2 linked regions of the Homo sapiens genome follow. The gene in region 1 interacts genetically with each later gene. Each region holds a gene or a part of one and is shown on either strand. Other genes may lie near its edges. The genes, in order: NOD2 and RBL1.

Region 1 (8,554 bases):
TTTTCTTGCAAACCTAGAATGTCTTGGGGAACAAACGGCTGTCACGTGTCCCCTTCCAAAAATGTCTTAAACACCGGAAAGGAGGGCAGGCTAAGGTGTAGCCCTTCCCACCCTGGGTGCCAGGGTTGGGGGTGCTGTAAGTGAAATATCAAAGCTGAGGTCACTAATATTCTGAATTTCAGCCTCAGAGGAAGGAGCGTGTGCAGGAGTCCAGGAGGAGGGGAGGAACCAGAGACGGGGAATGGCCTGGATGGATGAGTCGAGACATGGGGAAAGCTGCTTCCTGAATTATGTGTTCTGTGTACTCCTCTTCATCAGAGCAGTGGTAAGGGGTCTTTTGTGAGAGGCCGGGCCTCTCCACCAAAAGGCACTCAGTTAACAAGCACATCCATGGGCCCCACTGACCCACACGGAAGCCTGGGAGGATCAGCAGAGGCCAGTCCCATACTATGGAGGAGGGGCTGTCCTTGTACATCCTGGGATTGAATCTTGGGAAGAAGTCAATGGCAAAAGTAGGCTTGGGAAAAGTCTATCCTGGAGGGCACTGATGCTCCCTCCTCTGCCAGAATAAAGGTGACCTATGGTGTTCCCAGAAAACAAGTTCAGCCTTAGGCAGGACAGGGCTCATTTTGAAGAGGCTGCCAACACATGTCACCCAGCCTCTGGGGCCCAAACTCACAGCCTGCTCACAAACAAACTGAGACGAACATCCTCCCGGAGACTTCAAAGCAAGAGTCTGGTGTCCCTGCAGCCGAGCTTGTCAACCTCCTCTAGAGAGAAAGTGTTCCCTCGGAGCCTAAAGCAGATCAAGTGAACAGAGGTTTGAGTGAGGACAAAATTAGAGCAGGGCTTTCAAACAAAAGCCTCCACTTTTTAAACCCATGCCTGGGATGGGCTGACTCTCTGGCCCAGCTGCAGTGTTTCTTGCAGGGAAGTCAGGGCTGTTTTTACCCTTGGCCAACCAGGGCAGCTCAGGAAGCATTCTGAACAAGGCTCCATGACTCTGCAGAGAGAGTCCACAACACTGCACCCAGCCAGCCACAGACTCCCCAAGGCCAGTGATTCTTTTTAAGGCAATAAGAGAATCTGTCAAGAATGCAATGAGCAAACCCTGGTGCCCTCCCAAGTTCCATCAACAGGCAGCAAATAACATCAGACCCCTTAAAATATCAACCTCATGTTGGCTGGTGCCCAGGACCCAGAATGTGATGTTTCTTAGGACTGTGCAATGGTTTCAAAAACAAAGAAACAGAAAACCTACACTTTGCCCAGAACCTGATGACGTCATAGGCCACAGAGCTATCACAATCATACAGAAGGAAAAATCTCTCCATCACAGCATAGATTTTTGAAGTCACTTTTAAATTTTTTATTTTTTTAAGAGATGGGATCTAATTCTGTCGCCTGTGCAGTGATGCAATCATGGCCCACTGCAGCCTTGAACTCCTGGGTTCAAGGGATCCTTCCATCCCAGCCTCCCAAGTGGCTAGGAACTACACCGCACCCAGCTGAATTTTTTATTTTTTGAGAGACAAGGTCTGGTGTTGAACCTCTGGCCTAAAGTGATCCTCCTGCCTCAGCCTCCCAAAGTGCTAGGATTACAGGTGTGAGCTGCCACGCCCAGCAAAGCTTTTGTTTTTAACTTCATCATTTGATATCTGCATTCGCTGCAGCCTTGATGTGCTTTTTGAGAGAAGACAAGGCCTGCATATTTAAAGCAAGGGTCACAGGCTTATGGGAATGAGTTGCCAAAGGGTCCTGGTCTAAGACAATAGGCTTGGTGGATCTGCAGTCAGCCAGAGTGGGTTTGCCCATCTGAGAAGACTCAGCCCTTCTTGTACTCTGGTTAACTACTGGAATCATGAATGGGCATCCAGAGTTCCCAGCTCTTTTGAGAAAACCCTGAGATATAGATTTTCTATAGGAAATTTCCTGGCTTTTAAATATTAGTCTCTAGCCCAGTGCCTGGAACATATATAGTAGCATTCACTTACAGCACATTAGGCCAGGGAAAGCCTTTACTTATTGTCTGAGAAATAGATCCCTGGAAACAAGAAGGACAAATCTTTGAAGCTGTGGCTCAGCAGAGAGAAAGTCTACAACACTGGACCCAGCTGCCCAGACTCCCAAGGCTAGTCATTCTTTTTAAGGCAATGAAAGAATCTGTCAAGAATGCAATTCTTGCTTTTTTCAATACATGAAAGTCTATGGCTTTAATTATAGAGAATTGGAAACACTGTGCAACCTGCTCCTAACCTGTGTAATCTCCATTCAGAACCGCAGAAGGTCTGATCCAATATCCTTGACCTGTGAAGGCAGATGCAATTTCTAGGAGGGCGGGAGCTGACTTTTCTTTTCATTCTTCAACCACATCCCCATTCCTACACTATCTCATAGAGCAGAGAAGTTGCTGAATAAATAGTCAAGGTTTAAAAATGAAATCATTGCTCCCTACTTAAAGAGGTAAAGACTTCTTTCTTAGACAGAGAATCAGATCCTTCACATGCAGAATCATTCTCACTGAATGTCAGAATCAGAAGGGATCCTCAAAATTCTGCCATTCCTCTCTCCCGTCACCCCATTTTACAGATAGAAAAACTGAGGTTCGGAGAGCTAAAACAGGCCTGCCCAGGGGCCTTACCAGACTTCCAGGATGGTGTCATTCCTTTCAAGGGCCTGCAGGAGGGCTTCTGCCCCTAGGTAGGTGATGCAGTTATTGGACAACCTGGAAAAGAAGATACAATGGTGAGCTTCAAGGATTCTTGGTTTTCCTCTTGAAACTGTCCAGTTAAAGAGACTGCAGGAGTTAGCCAGTCTACTGAAGCCCACCTGTCCCTTAGACACATCCTGCTCATGTCTGAGATTCCCAATGAGCTCATCAACAAAGGCTCAGTACCATCAGTGAAATGTAACCGTCTCTCTTCCATTCACTAGATGAGTTTATCAAATTAAGTAGCCACTCCCTTAGGATAGTGGTTAAGTACCTGCATTTTAGTGCTAGACATCCTGGGTTTAAATCCCACCTACACCACTTCTTTTTTGATCTCGAGCAAATTAGTCCCAATCTCCTCATTGGTAAAATGGGCCTAAAAGAGTACCCGTGCCATCGAGCATAAGAATCTAAATTGTGATGGGTGTAAGCAGGCTCCTATTCACATCCACCATCCATCTCCTTGTGGCATGGGTCCTGGGCCATTAAGTCAGCCACCAGTCCCCCATTACCTCCCCACACTCTGCTTGCTGGGAAGACCCACCACTCTCTGCATGCCTAAAACACTTGCACAGTACTTGATATGGTTTGGCTGTGTCCCCACCCAAATCTCTTGAATTCCCACGTGTTGTGGGAGCGACCCAGTGGAAGGTAATTGAATCCCATCCTGTTCTCATTACAGTAAATAAGTTTCATGATATCTGATGGTTTTAAAAAGGGGAGTTTCCCTGAACAAGCCCTCTTCTCCTGTCTGCTGCCATGTGAGATGTGCCTTTCACCTTCAGCCATGATTGTGAGACCTCCCCAGCCACGTGGAACTGTAAGTTCAATAAAACTCTTTCTTTCATAAAGTGCCCAGTCTTGGGTATATCTTTATCATCAGCATGAAAACGGACTAATACAGTACTTAATTGATAGAAAATAACCAATGAGCAGTAATATTTCTATTTTCAGGGGGGTCTTTGAGGGCACAGAGACAGAGATTAGAGAACATATGAGGTAGCTGACAACAGGGAGGGGAGACAGGATAGGGCCAGGGACAGCAACAGAGGAGTCATGTGTTTCCCAGGTTGCTCTTTTGGTTACAGCTTTGCCTTCCAATAATGTCCACTCCAGGTCCTCCCCCTTTCCCACAATTTCAGGAATGTCTTACAAGTTGACCCTAAGGCAATGCCAATTGTAATTGCCAGTATTTATTGAACTTCTATTAGATTGGTGCAAAAGTAATTGCAGTTTTTGCATTGTTGAAATTTGCCATTTGATATTGGAATACATTCTTAAATAAATGTGGTTATGCTATACATCATTTTAATGCACAATTCTCACTTTATGATTTTTTGCTAATGACTTAATACTTTCTGTTTATTTTATATTTATTTTAGACTATGAAAATGATGTTAGACAAAAAGCAAATTCAAGCAATTTTCTTATTTGAATTCAAAATGGGTTGTAAAGCAGCGGAGACAACTCACAACATCAGCAATGCATTTGGCCCAGGAACTGCTAACTAACGTATAGTGCAGTGGTGGTTCAAGAAGTTTTGCGAAGGAGATAAGAGCCTTGAAGATGAGGAGTGTACTGGCAGGCCATCAGAAGCTGACAATGACCAATTGAGAGCAATCATCAAAGCTGATTTTCTTACAACTACTTGAGAACTCAACATCGACCATTCCATGGTCATTCAGCATTTGAAGCAAATTGGAAAGGTGAAAAACCTCGATAAGTGTGTGCCTCATGAGCTGAGTGAAAACCAAGAAAATCGTCATTTTGAAGTGTCATCTTCTCTTATTCTACACAACAACAGCGAACCATTTCTTGATCTGATTGTGACGTGCGATGAAAAGTGGATTTTATACAACTGGCAATGACTAGCTCAGTGGTTGGACCGAGAAGAAGCTCCAAAGCACTTCCCAAAGGCAAATTCGCACCAAAAAAAAAAGGTCATGGTCACTGGTGGTCTGCTGCTAGTCTGATCCCCTACAGCTTTCTGAATCCCTGCGAAACCATTACATATGAGAAGTATGCTCGGCAAGTCAATGAGATGCACTGAAAACTGCAACACCTGCAGCCGGCATTCGTCAACAGAAAGGGTCCAATTCTCCACGACAACACCCGACTGCATGTCACACAACCAAAGCTTCAAAAGTTGAATGAATTGGACTATGAAGTTTTGCCTCATCCGCCATATTTACCTGACCTCTAGCCAACTGACTACCATTTCTTCAAGAATCTTGACAACTTTCTGCAGGAAAAATGCTTCCACAACCAGGAGGATGCAGAAAATGCTTTCCAAGAGTTTGTTGAATCCCGAAGCATGAATTTTTATGCTACAGGAATAAACAAACTTATTTCTTATTGGCAAAAATGTGTTGATTTTAATGGTTCCTATTTTGATTAATAAAGATGTATTTTAGCCTAGTTATAATAATTTAAAGTTCATGGTCTGAAACCACAATTACTTTTGCTCCAACCTACAACTCACTTTTGTTAGCTACATTCTCTCAGTGAATGCTCATGGCCTATAATGAAGGTCCAGCCATTATCTCCATTTACACTTGAGGCAACTGAGGCACTCATCCAAGAAGAACTGGCTGGTAATGGTGGAGCAGGGGTAAGACCCAGGCTGTCTGGTTCCAGAGCCTGGACTCTTTTTTTTAAATTATTATTTTTCTCATCCTTTTTTTTTTTTTTTTTGAGATGGAAGTTTCTCTCTTGTCCAGTCTAGGGTGCAATGGTGTGATCTTGGCTCATGGCAACCTCCACCTCCCAGGTTCAAGTGATTCTCCTGCCTCAGCTTCCTGAGTAGATGGGATTACAGGTGTATGCCACCACGCCCGGCTAATTTTGTATTTTTAGTAGAGATGGGGTTTCTCCATGTTGGTCAGGCTGGTATGGAACTCCCCACTTCAGGTGATCCACCCGCCTCAGCCTCCCAAAGTGCTGGGATTACAGGTGTGAGCCACTGCACCCAGCAAGCCTGGGCTCTCAACCAACTCTTGGCAGAAACTAAGCCTGGAAAAGAAAGATGTAGGCATTTCTCTTTTTTATAAAAGATATATCAGAAGTTCAATTTTTGTGGGGGATGATATAGTTTAGGATGCTGAAAAATAAGGCTGATGACAGGGTGGCATGGGACCAACCCCAGCCTCATTGCCTGGCATCCATGGGAGTCAAGTGGAGTAAGGCTGTGACAAGGAGGGAAGACAAACCTGCCATATCCACACCTGGTTGATAATGGGCTTGGTATTCCCAAAGGCCGACCCTCAGTGCAAAGCTGGCATCTGGCTCAGACACATCCGGGCTTCACCCCAACTTCCCAGCCCATTTCCACCCAAATAATTAGTGGAAGTGTTTTCTCCAAATATTTGGAAACTTCCTAGCTTGTGAAAGCAACACAAATGAGTGTCGCCAGAGTGGGTAGCAGCCTGGCAGCAAAGCTGGCACTCACAGAGGCAGCTGTCTGTCTGTCTGTCTCTAAAGGCAAGCGTTTTCCTAGGACCACATTTGCCTAGGCAGATGCCACTTTCCTCCAGCAAAAGGAGCCATCTGATGGGGTTCCTGAGGTCTACTTGAAATAAGAATTTTGGCATCAGCCTCAGAGAGCACCCTGACAAACCCATGATGGTCACTAGGTGGGTTCATGTTCACCTGAGCTGTCCATCTCTTTGTGGCACAAGTCCCAAGCCACTGAGTCAGCCACTGGAGGAGGCCACAGTACTCCCCATCACATCACCTCCCCAGCCACTGCTTGCAGAGAAGACCTTCCACTCTCTGCCTGAGGCCATTCTCCTGACCCCAGAAGCATGTTCAGCTGGGTGAGGGTGAGCTGGAAGTGCTGGAGAATCAGTGCCCCATGAGCGCACATCAACATAGGAAGGACAGAGGGTTGGTGGATAAATGCCATGGCTTTCTTGCCCATTGGTTGGGTAGGTGACCATGTGTGTTCTGCACTGGCTCCAGGAGTGCCCCAGAGTACTGAGCTCCAATTTCCCTCATTGATAACTGGCTTGATAACTCCCCTTTATTGGTTACCTTCACTTCCCCATCTCACTTCACCACTCTCCTATCAGCATTTACTGGGACCACCTCCCAGATAAACAACTTGCACTGGAATCCTTGTCCACCTAGACCAAGGCAAGCTGTTCTACCAGGCCACCTCACATGAGTTAGCCCAGCGGAGAGCGGCCCAGATCTTATTCAGAAATGCCCCTTCCAAAGGCCAGCAATTATTGTCCTGTTTCCTGCTTATGGGTTCCTTACTTCAGGATTTTCAAACTTGAATTTTTCTTCAGTCCTTCTGCGAGAGAACATACACCTTCATCCTGGAGATGGTTCTCCTCCAGGCTGGTGAGAAGAAGAGAGAAAATCCAGTTGATACAACATTGATTATGGAAGATGATGAACTCACATGCCCCCCATATAGGAAATCCAACATCTGAAAACCCAAACTCATGGATAAAGAAAGAACAGATAAAGTACGTTGTGGGGATTCTCAATTCCAGGGACATATTTGCAAGAGAATTCACTCCAAGGGCTCTCAATGTAATAAGTTCCCTGATCCCCCAGCTTCCTGATCTCCATCTTTCCTTTCTTCCTTATTAATGGAAGTCTCATTTCATTTGGACAGCCATGCACTTGGTGAAAAAACTGTATTTCCCACTCTCCATTGCAGCCAGGGCTGGTCAAACAACATACAAGTGGGTTGGTCAAGTGACATACACATGGTTGATACATAAGGGGAAGTCGACAGGTGGGGCTTCCAGGAATGCTTTTTAAAGGAGAGAACCCAGATGGCTTTCCTGGGTATATAGATCGAATCCGGGAATACAGAAGTAGTGCTGCACCTGGAGCAGCCATCCTGTGATCATGAGACAACCAACCATGTGAATGAAGTCACAGGCTAAGAATGATGGAACAGGAAGAGAATGAGACAGAGCTGAGACCCCTCCTGGCCTCTTGTAGCCACTGTACAAACCCTACACTGCCTACATCCAGCTGCCTATACAGGAAAAAATAAACCCTTTCCTTGTTTAAACCTCTATAGATGGAGGTATTCTGTCACCTGCAGCTTAACATATAGTTAAACTAAATTTGGCCTGAGACTGCCTCTGTACTTTGAGTTCCTATGTAGCAAACTGCAACCTAACAACATATCCTTATAACAAACAGCTAAGTCTTAGCCAATCACAGCAGCCAGGCTTCAGTCAGTCACAGTCTACCAGCTGATCAGTCTATATCCATATAAAGAAAATGCCTCATCACACCATGCCCATATAAGGCAAATGCCCAGCTGCAACCAATCAAGCTGTTTTGTACATCACTTCCTTTTCCTGTCTATAGATACTGCTTGCCTACCTTGCTGGGTGGAGCACTCCCAGTTCTGAATGCTGCCCAATTCATAAATTGCTGTATGTTCAAACCAGTTCTGCTAAATTTAATTTGCCTAAAGTTTTTCTTTTAACAGTAATCATAACTGATGCTCTCATAACAAGGTTCTCCTCTACTAAGAAATTCCAAGTGGCAAAATCCAGTCAGGATAGAATCAATCATACTTGAGTAGAGCTAGTAAGCCCTGCAACAGCCAAGGTCCATCCATAAAATCTGTTTATGGCAATGCCCATATGTTGCAGTGCCTTTCTGCTTCCCGGGAAAATCAAACATTCAGTATTTTATCTCCCTGACATAATCTGAAGCTGCCCAGAACATGTCAGAAAACTATACTAGTGGCATCTAAAGGATGAGAAACTTAGAATCTGCTTCAGGTCAACAGTATAAGCATGATTCATGGTTCCTCTTTCAACTATCAAAACTCCATTACACCTTCCAAAATGACCTAAGACTTGA
Region 2 (8,554 bases), on another chromosome or scaffold:
TTTTAAGACGGAGTTTCGCTCTCGTTGCCCAGGCTGGAGTGCAATGGTGCGATCTCAGCTCACCGCAACTTCCGCCTCCCCGCAACTTCCACCTCCCCGCAACTTCCACCTCCCGGGTTCAAGCAATTCTCCTGCCTCAGCCTCCGGAGTAGCTGGGACTACAGGCATGTGCCACCACGCCCGGCTAATTTTGTATTTTTAGTAGAGACAGGGTTTCTCCATGTTGGTCAGGCTGGTCTCGAGCTCCTGACCTCAGGTTGTCCACCTGCCTCGGACTCCCAAAGTGCTGGGATTACAGGCGTGAGCCACTGCACCCGGCCAAAAAACAAAATTTTTAAAGTCCTCTGTAAGGGAGCATAATTTTTTGTAAGCCAAAAAATATTTAGTAATCTGACAAATTTTTTGCTGCTGTTGGTAAGAATCTTTTAATGAGGTCCTTAAGAGTCTCAGATTATATCAGCATGTCCAGAGTTTGAATGCTGTATTAGGACGTTTTACGTTGCTATGAAGGAATACCTGAGGTTGGGTGACTTATTTAAAAAAAGAGATTTATTTGGCCCAGGGTTCTGCAGGCCGTATAGGAAGCATGGGGCTGGCATCTGCTCCTGGTGAGGGCCTCAGGAAGTTTACAGTCACGGTAGGTGAAGGGGGAGGAGGCACATCACATGATGAGAGCAGGAGCAATTGAGGGTGGGAAGTGCCACACTTTTAAACAGCCAGATCTCAGGTGAGTGACAACTAAACTCACTACCATGAGGAGAGCACCAAGCCATTCATGAGGGATCTGCTCCCATGACCCAAACACCTCCCACTAGGCCCACCTCCAACATTGGAGGTCACGTTTCTTTTTTATTTTTTTGAGACGGGCTTTCACTCTCTTGCCCAGGCAGTAGCATGTTCATGACTCACTGCAGCTTCAACCCCTCAGGCTCAAGTGATCCTCCTGCCTCAGCTTCCTGAGTAGCTGGGCCCACAGTCACACACCACCATGCTTTGCTAACTTTTAAATTTTTTGTAGAGACGAGATCTCACTGTGTTGCCCAAGCTGGTCTCAAACTGGTGGGCTCAGGTGATCCTCCAGCCTCACCCTCCCAAAGTGTTGGGATTACAGGCATGAGCTACCATGCCCAGCCAAGGAAATTACATTGCAACATGAGATTTGGAGGGGACAAAACATCCAAACCACATTAAATAGCTTTGGATGATTTGCTATTAATGTCTTCTGTCACCTTAAAAAGAAATTATAAGTATTGGCCAGGCGAAATGGACTCAAGTAAGCCTTTCCAATCTACATGAAATAATCAGAACATAGGGCCGAGTGCAGTGGTTCATGCCTGTAATCCCAGCACTTTGGGAGGCCGAGGCAGGTGGATCATCTGAGGTCAGGAGTTCAAGACCATCCTGGCAAACATGGTGAAACCTTGTCTCTACTAAAAATACAAAAATTAGCTAGGCATGGTGGTGTGCACCTGTAGTCCCAGCTGTCAGGAGGTAGAGGCAGGAAAATTGCTTGAAGCTGGGATGCAGAGGTTGCAGTGAGCCAAGATCATGCCACTGCACTCCAGCCTGGGTGACAGACTGAGACTCCATCTCAAAAAAAAAAAATTACAAGTATTATTCTGTATATATTGCTAGACCTTTAATTAAGTGAGCTTTGACATGACAAGTTTTCTATCTAAGACCACGTTAACATAGGGACATAAAAAAATGTACCCAGAATTGGCCTGGGCACGGTGGCTTGCTTGAACACAGGAGGTGGAAGTTGCAGTAAACCAAGGTGGTGCCACTGCACTCCAACCTGGGCACCAGAACTATTAAGTTTTTTTCTGAGTATGTGCTACCTTCTTTACTTTTGGTTGTGGAACCACACATTGGAACTCAAACTCTTGAATTTTACTCCTAACCTGTAACAATCTGGTGCTTTGTAATCAAATTCCCATTTGGAAAATGGAATTGTCTTTCCATTTGGGAGACTTCTGTTTTCCCTCAAACTAATTTTATTTTATTTTATGTTTTTTTTTTTAAATTTATTTATTTTTTATTGATAATTCTCGGGTGTTTCTCACAGAGGGGGATTTGGCAGGGTCATAGGACAATAGTGGAGGGAAGGTCAGCAGATAAACAAGTGAACAAAGGTCTCTGGTTTTCCTAGGCAGAGGACCCTGCGGCCTTCCGCGGTGTTTGTGTCCCTGGGAACTTGCGATTAGGGAGTGGTGATGACTCTTAAGGAGCATGCTGCCTTCAAGCATCTGTTTAACAAAGCACATCTTGCACCGCCCTTAATCCATTTAACCCTGAGTGGACACAGCACTTGTTTCAGAGAGCACAGGGTTGGGGGTAAGGTCACAGATCAACAGGATCCCACGGCAGAAGAAGTTTTCTTAGTACAGAACAAAATGAAAAGTCTCCCATGTCTACTTCTTTCTACACAGACACGGCAACCATTCGATTTCTCAATCTTTTCCCCACCTTTCCCGCCCTTCTATTCCACAAAGCCGCCATTGTCATCCTGGCCCGTTCTCAATGAGCTGTTGGGCACACCTCCCAGACGGGGTGGTGGCCGGGCAGAGGGGCTCCTCACTTCCCAGTAGGGGCAGCTGGGCAGAGGCGCCCCTCACCTCCTGGACGGGGCGGCTGGCCGGGCGGGGGGCTGACCCCCCCACCTCCCTCCCGGACAGGGCGGCTGGCCTGGCAGGGGGCTGACCCCCCCACCTCCCTCCCGGATGGGGGTGCTGGCCTGGCGGGGGGCTGACCCCCCCCACCTCCCTCCCGGACTGGGTGGCTGCCAGGCGGAGACGCTCCTCACTTCCCAGACTGGGTGGCTGTCGGGCGGAGAGGCTCCTCACTTCTCAGACGGGGCGGCTGCCGGGCGGAGGGGCTCCTCACTTCTCAGACGGGGCGGTTGCCGGGCAGAGGGTCTCCTCACTTCTCAGACGGGGCGGCCGGGCAGAGATGCTCCTCACCTCCCAGACGGGGTCGCAGCCGGGCAGAGGTGCTCCTCACATCCCAGACGGGGTGGCGGGGCAGAGGCGCTCCCCACATCTCAGACGATGGGCGGCTGGGCAGAGACGCTCCTCACTTCCTAGATGGGATGGCGGCGAGGAAGAGGTGCTCCTCACTTCCTAGGTGGGATGGCGGCCGGGCGGAGACGCTCCTCACTTTCCAGACTGGGCAGCCAGGCAGAGGGGCTCCTCACATCCCAGACGATGGGCGGCCAGGCAGAGACGCTCCTCACTTCCCAGACGGGGTGGCAGCTGGGCAGAGGCTGCAATCTTGGCACTTTGGGAGGCCAAGGCAGGCGGCTGGGAGGTGGAGGTTGTAGCGAGCCGAGATCACGCCACTGCACTCCAGCCTGGGCACCATTGAGCACTGAGTGAACCAGACTCCGTCTGCAATCCCGGCACCTCGGGAGGCCGAGGCTGGCGGATCACTTGCGGTTAGGGGCTGGAGACCGGCCTGGCCAACACAGCGAAACCCCGTCTCCACCAAAACCAGTCAGGCGTGGCGGCCCGAGCCTGCAATCGCAGGCACTCGGCAGGCTGAGTCAGGAGAATCAGGCAGGGAGGTTGCAGTGAGCCGAGATGGCAGCAGTACAGTCCAGCTTCGGCTCAGCATGAGAGGGAGACCGTGGAAAGAGAGGGAGAGGGAGACCGTGGGGAGAGGGAGAGGGAGAGCTCCTAATTTTGTATTTGTAGTAGAGACGGGGTTTCTTCATGTTGCTCAGGCTGTGTCTTGAACTCCCGATCTCAGGTGATCTCAAACTAATTTTATAACCTGTCAATCTGTTAACTAACATTAACTTTGTAAATTTTATGCAAAATATTGTCTAGGTAATATAGAGAATAAAGGAAGTAGATAGGTGCTCTCGCTCCCTCCATAGCAGTAAACTCTATGTGATGACCACTAATTAATAACCTGTATTCCCCTGGTGATCCTGGGAACGAAAGTGATTTCATAGTGAGGACTTTTTTTTTTTAATTAAATTTAGGCTTGAGGGATGGTGTTTGTTCTTTGTTCATGTAAGACAGTGTCTTGCTTTGTCACCCGGGCTGGAGTACATGATTGAGGCTAACTGCAGTCTCGACATCCTGGGCTCAAGCAATTCTCCCACCTCAGCCTCCCAAGTACCTGGGGCTACAGGCACATGCCACCACACCCAGCTAATTTTTTAAATTTTTGTAGAGATGGGGTCTTAACTATGTTGCCTGGGAAATCTGGCTTTTTAATAAAGAGTCTTAGTCATGAATAGAATATTTCCTTTCAATCCATTATTTAAATGAATTTTAAAGGTGCCTTTTTTCTCCTCCTTTTTTTTTTTAGTTTAATACAATTTTTTAGTAAAATGAAGAAATGGATGGACATGTCAAATCTACCACAAGAATTTCGTGAACGTATAGAAAGGCTAGAGAGAAATTTTGAGGTGTCTACTGTAATATTCAAAAAATATGAGCCAATTTTTTTAGATATATTTCAAAATCCATATGAAGAACCACCAAAGTTACCACGAAGCCGGAAGCAGAGGTGAGCCCTTAATCCTTATATAATTGACATAAAGATTATGATACAAACTAAGAGAATATACTTTTTTGAAAGTCTGTTTTTTATGAAAAGTATTCCTGCAAAGAACTTAATTATTTTCTTTTTAAATCCATGTACAATTATCCATATTTGGAAATTCAGGATAATACTTTTACTTATTTTTCTTTCTGTTGTTGTTTTTTTTTTTTTTTTTTTTTTTTTGAGGAGTCTCATTCTGTTGCCCAGGCTGGAGTGCAGTGTCCTGATCTCGGCTCACTGCAACCTCTGTCTCCCAGGTTCAAGCAATTCTCCTACCTTAGCCTCCTGAGTAGCTGGGATCACAGGTGTGCACCACCCCGTCTGGCTCATTTTTTGTATTTTTAGTAGAGACCAGGTCTCACCGTGTTGGCCAAGGTGGTCTCGAACTCCTAACCTCAGGTGATCTACCCACCTCGGCCTCCCAGAGTGCTGGGATTACAGGCATGAGCCACCACACCCAGCCCTATGTTCTGATTATTTTATGCAGGTTGGAAAGGCTTACTTAAGTCCATTTCATAAATAATAGATTACTTTTCTTCATGAATGGAATTTCATGTGTAATTTGATCTATTTGATATTTACATTTACTATTTCAGTTTACATGATATTTAGCGAGCTAGTCAGACAAAAAGTAATTTTTTTCCCTTTTTAGGAGGATTCCTTGCAGTGTTAAGGATCTGTTTAATTTCTGTTGGACACTTTTTGTTTATACTAAGGGTAAGATGACACTTTCAGTGGTCTTACATTTCTACTCTGGGAACTTGGTGCTATTTGACATGAGAGGTTTCTGGTTTTTGTGTCTTTTTTTTTTTTTTTTCCCTTATAAAGGTAATTTTCGGATGATTGGGGATGACTTAGTAAACTCTTATCATTTACTTCTATGCTGCTTGGATCTGATTTTTGCCAATGCGATTATGTGCCCAAATAGACAAGACTTGCTAAATCCATCATTTAAAGGTAAGACCTTTTATTTATTTTTGAAAACTGATTATCAGTTTTTGGAAAAAGATTTTTAAAAGTTGACTATTTTTTTTTCCCTCTGCCCTTCCTACACTGTCAAACTAGGTTTACCATCTGATTTTCATACTGCTGACTTTACGGCTTCTGAAGAGCCACCCTGCATCATTGCTGTACTGTGTGAACTGCATGATGGACTTCTCGTAGAAGCAAAAGGAATAAAGGAGCACTACTTTAAGCCATATATTTCAAAACTCTTTGACAGGAAGGTACTGTACTTATAATTAGATGACTGAGATGTTTACAGATCACCAGTAATGTGAAAAGAAAAAAATGTTTTAAGCAAGTTCTCAGCATTATAGAACTTAGGGTCAGGATTCCCAGGCTTTAGCCTCTACTGTGATTCAGAATTTCCTTATGATCTTGTGTGATGTGAGAAACAGAGCTGTTGAAAAATGTGACCAACTATATGTACTGTTGGGTAAATGTACTGTCAGAGGCAACCGTAGGAGGTACTGATAAAGAATTGTAAAGAATAGAACATCAGAGTAGGGCTGACAAATAATTAGGAAAAACAGGAGGTCAGAATAAGCTGACTAATTTACTGCCACAATTTGAATAACTGCTGACTGTTGACTAAAAGTAGGATGATGTATAACAACCACAGTTTTAATTCCATGTAAATCGAGCAGAAAATCCATGATAGTTTTGTAGCCACTTGTAGGCTATCTGTGTGCATTCTGGACATTGTCTCCTTGGTAATTAACTTAGCTATTTCTACATTTATGAATTGGCTTGTTCCTTTGGGTTTCAATTTCTTATTTCCCCAACGTCGAGCCATTAAATGTAGTTAAGCCTCAAGATTTCTCTTTGGTAAAAGGAGGGGTTTGGATTATGGATCCCACTTTTCAAATATTATGAGATTTTTCTTTAAGCATAAATTCTTCCCTTACTGGTTTCTTCTTCTTTTATACAAATTTTTGTATTCAGTCTTGTGTTCCTCAGATATCTATATTATGGCCCATTGTCTGTATGCTAAACATCTCTAGCAAAGTAAACTTTTTTTAAAGGATCCCAGGGACTGGGCGCGGTGGCTCACGCCTGTAATCCCAACACTTTGGGAGGCCAAGGCAGGTGGATTGCTTGAGCCCAAGAGTTCCAGACGAACCTGAGCAACATGGCAAAACCTTGTCTCTACAAACAATACAAAAATTAGTTGGGCATGGTGGTGCACAACTGTAGTCCCAGCTACTTGGCACGCTGAGGCTGCAGTGAGCCATGATTGTACCACTGCACTGCAGCCCTGGTGACAGAACAAAACCCTGTCTCAAAAAAAAAAAAAAGTTAAAAAAAAAAGTTATTTGCATGCTAAATAGTTTATCCTAGTCTGAAAGAAATATTTAATAATTCTGTTTTGTGTGTGTGTTATAACAATATGGAAATTTAGATAAATTTCACGTTTGTGTGTGTATTAATATGCTTAATTATATGGTGTCCCAAAATAATTTTTTGTTCACAGATATTAAAAGGAGAATGCCTCCTGGACCTTTCAAGTTTTACTGATAATAGGTAAATATCTAGTACTAATGGTGCCTGGCTTATCACAAGCTGTCATATTTGTTGATTTGTTGAAATTTGTTAAGCATAACAGTATATCAAAGTAAGACCTCCAAATTCAAGTTCTCTCTGCTTTAGTGGCATTGAATGTTTATTATCACTAAGACTTGTTGGCTTTAAATACATTTATTTTAAGAAATCAAGGCCAGGCACGGTGGCCCACACCTGTAAACCCATCACTTTGGAAGGCCAAGGCAGGCAGATTGCTTGAGCTCAGAAGGTTGGAGACCAGCCTGGGCAACATGGTGAAACCCTGTCTCTACAAAAAATACAAAAATCAGCCAGACGTAGTGGTGTGAGCCTGTGGTCCCAGCTACTTGGGAGGTTGAGGTTGGAGGATCGTTTGAATCTGGGAGGTTGTGGTTGCAGTGAGCCGTGATTGCACCACTGCACTTCAGTCTAGGTGACAGAGTGAGACCCTATTTCCAAAAAAAAAAAAAAAAAGAAAGAGGCCGGGCATGGTGGCTCACGCCTGTAATCCCAACACTTTGGGAGGCCAAGGCGGGCCGATCACTTGAGGTCAGGAGTTTGAGATCAGCCTGGCCAGAGATCAGCCTGGCCAACATGGTGAAACCGCATCTCTACTAAAAATTCAAAAATTATCTGGGTGTGGTGGTGCACACCTGTAATCCCAGCTGCTTGGGAGACTGAGGCAGGAGAATCACTTGAACCCAGGAGGCAGAGGCTGCAGTGAGCTGAGATCATGCCACTGCACTCCAGCCTAGGCGACAGAGCGAGATTCCATCTCAATTAAAAAAAAAAATTATTGATACTTACGTATTTATTTTTATTTTTTTAGAGATGGGATCTCACTGTGTTGCCCAGGCTGGTCTCTAATTCCTGGCCTCAAGCAATCCTCTCACCATAGCCTCCCAAAGTGCTAGGATTACAGGTATGACCCACCACACCCGGCCAATTGGCATTTAAAACAGCTACTCAGCCAGGCGTGCAATGGCTTATGCCTATAATCCCAGCACTTTCGGAGGCCAAGGCAGGCAGATCACGAGGTCAGGAGATTGAGACCATCCTGGCCAAAATGGTGAAACCCGGTCTCTACTAAAAATACAAAAATTAGCTCGGTGTGGTGGCACACGCCTGTAGTCCCAGCTACTTGGGAGGCTGAGGCAGGCGGATCGCTTGAACCCAGGAGGTGGAGGTTGCAGTAAGTTGAGATCGCACCACTGCACTCCAGCCTGGGCAGCAGAGCAAGACTCATCTCAAAAAAAAAAAAAAAAAGAAAGAAAAGAAATTAAGGCCGGGCACAGTGGCTCACACCTGTAATCCCAGCACTTTGGAAGGCCAAGGCAGCCAGATCGCTTGAGCTCAGAAGGTTGGAGACCAGCCTGGGCAACATGGTGAAACCTTGTCTCTACAAAAAATACAAAATCAGCCAGACGTAGTGGCGTGAGCCTGTAGTCCCAGC

The links.
Region 2: changes in NOD2 (region 1) and RBL1 together harm fitness less than expected from each alone (positive genetic interaction), as found in Homo sapiens cells (one study listed by BioGRID).

Annotation. Positions count from the first base shown.
Region 1 is NC_000016.10:50,723,989-50,732,542, reverse strand, and holds part of NOD2 (nucleotide-binding oligomerization domain-containing protein 2), read right to left. Parts: intron 7,055-8,554; coding exon 6,971-7,054; intron 5,129-6,970; exon of another isoform or gene 4,093-5,128; intron 3,531-4,092; exon of another isoform or gene 3,393-3,530; intron 2,726-3,392; coding exon 2,642-2,725; exon of another isoform or gene 2,590-2,641; intron 797-2,589; coding exon 724-796; 3' UTR 1-723. UniProt on the Homo sapiens protein: Pattern recognition receptor (PRR) that detects bacterial peptidoglycan fragments and other danger signals and plays an important role in gastrointestinal immunity.
Region 2 is NC_000020.11:37,063,953-37,072,506, reverse strand, and holds part of RBL1 (retinoblastoma-like protein 1), read left to right. Parts: intron 1-4,320; coding exon 4,321-4,521; intron 4,522-5,209; coding exon 5,210-5,274; intron 5,275-5,385; coding exon 5,386-5,514; intron 5,515-5,622; coding exon 5,623-5,783; intron 5,784-7,033; coding exon 7,034-7,083; intron 7,084-8,554. UniProt on the Homo sapiens protein: Key regulator of entry into cell division. Directly involved in heterochromatin formation by maintaining overall chromatin structure and, in particular, that of constitutive heterochromatin by stabilizing histone methylation.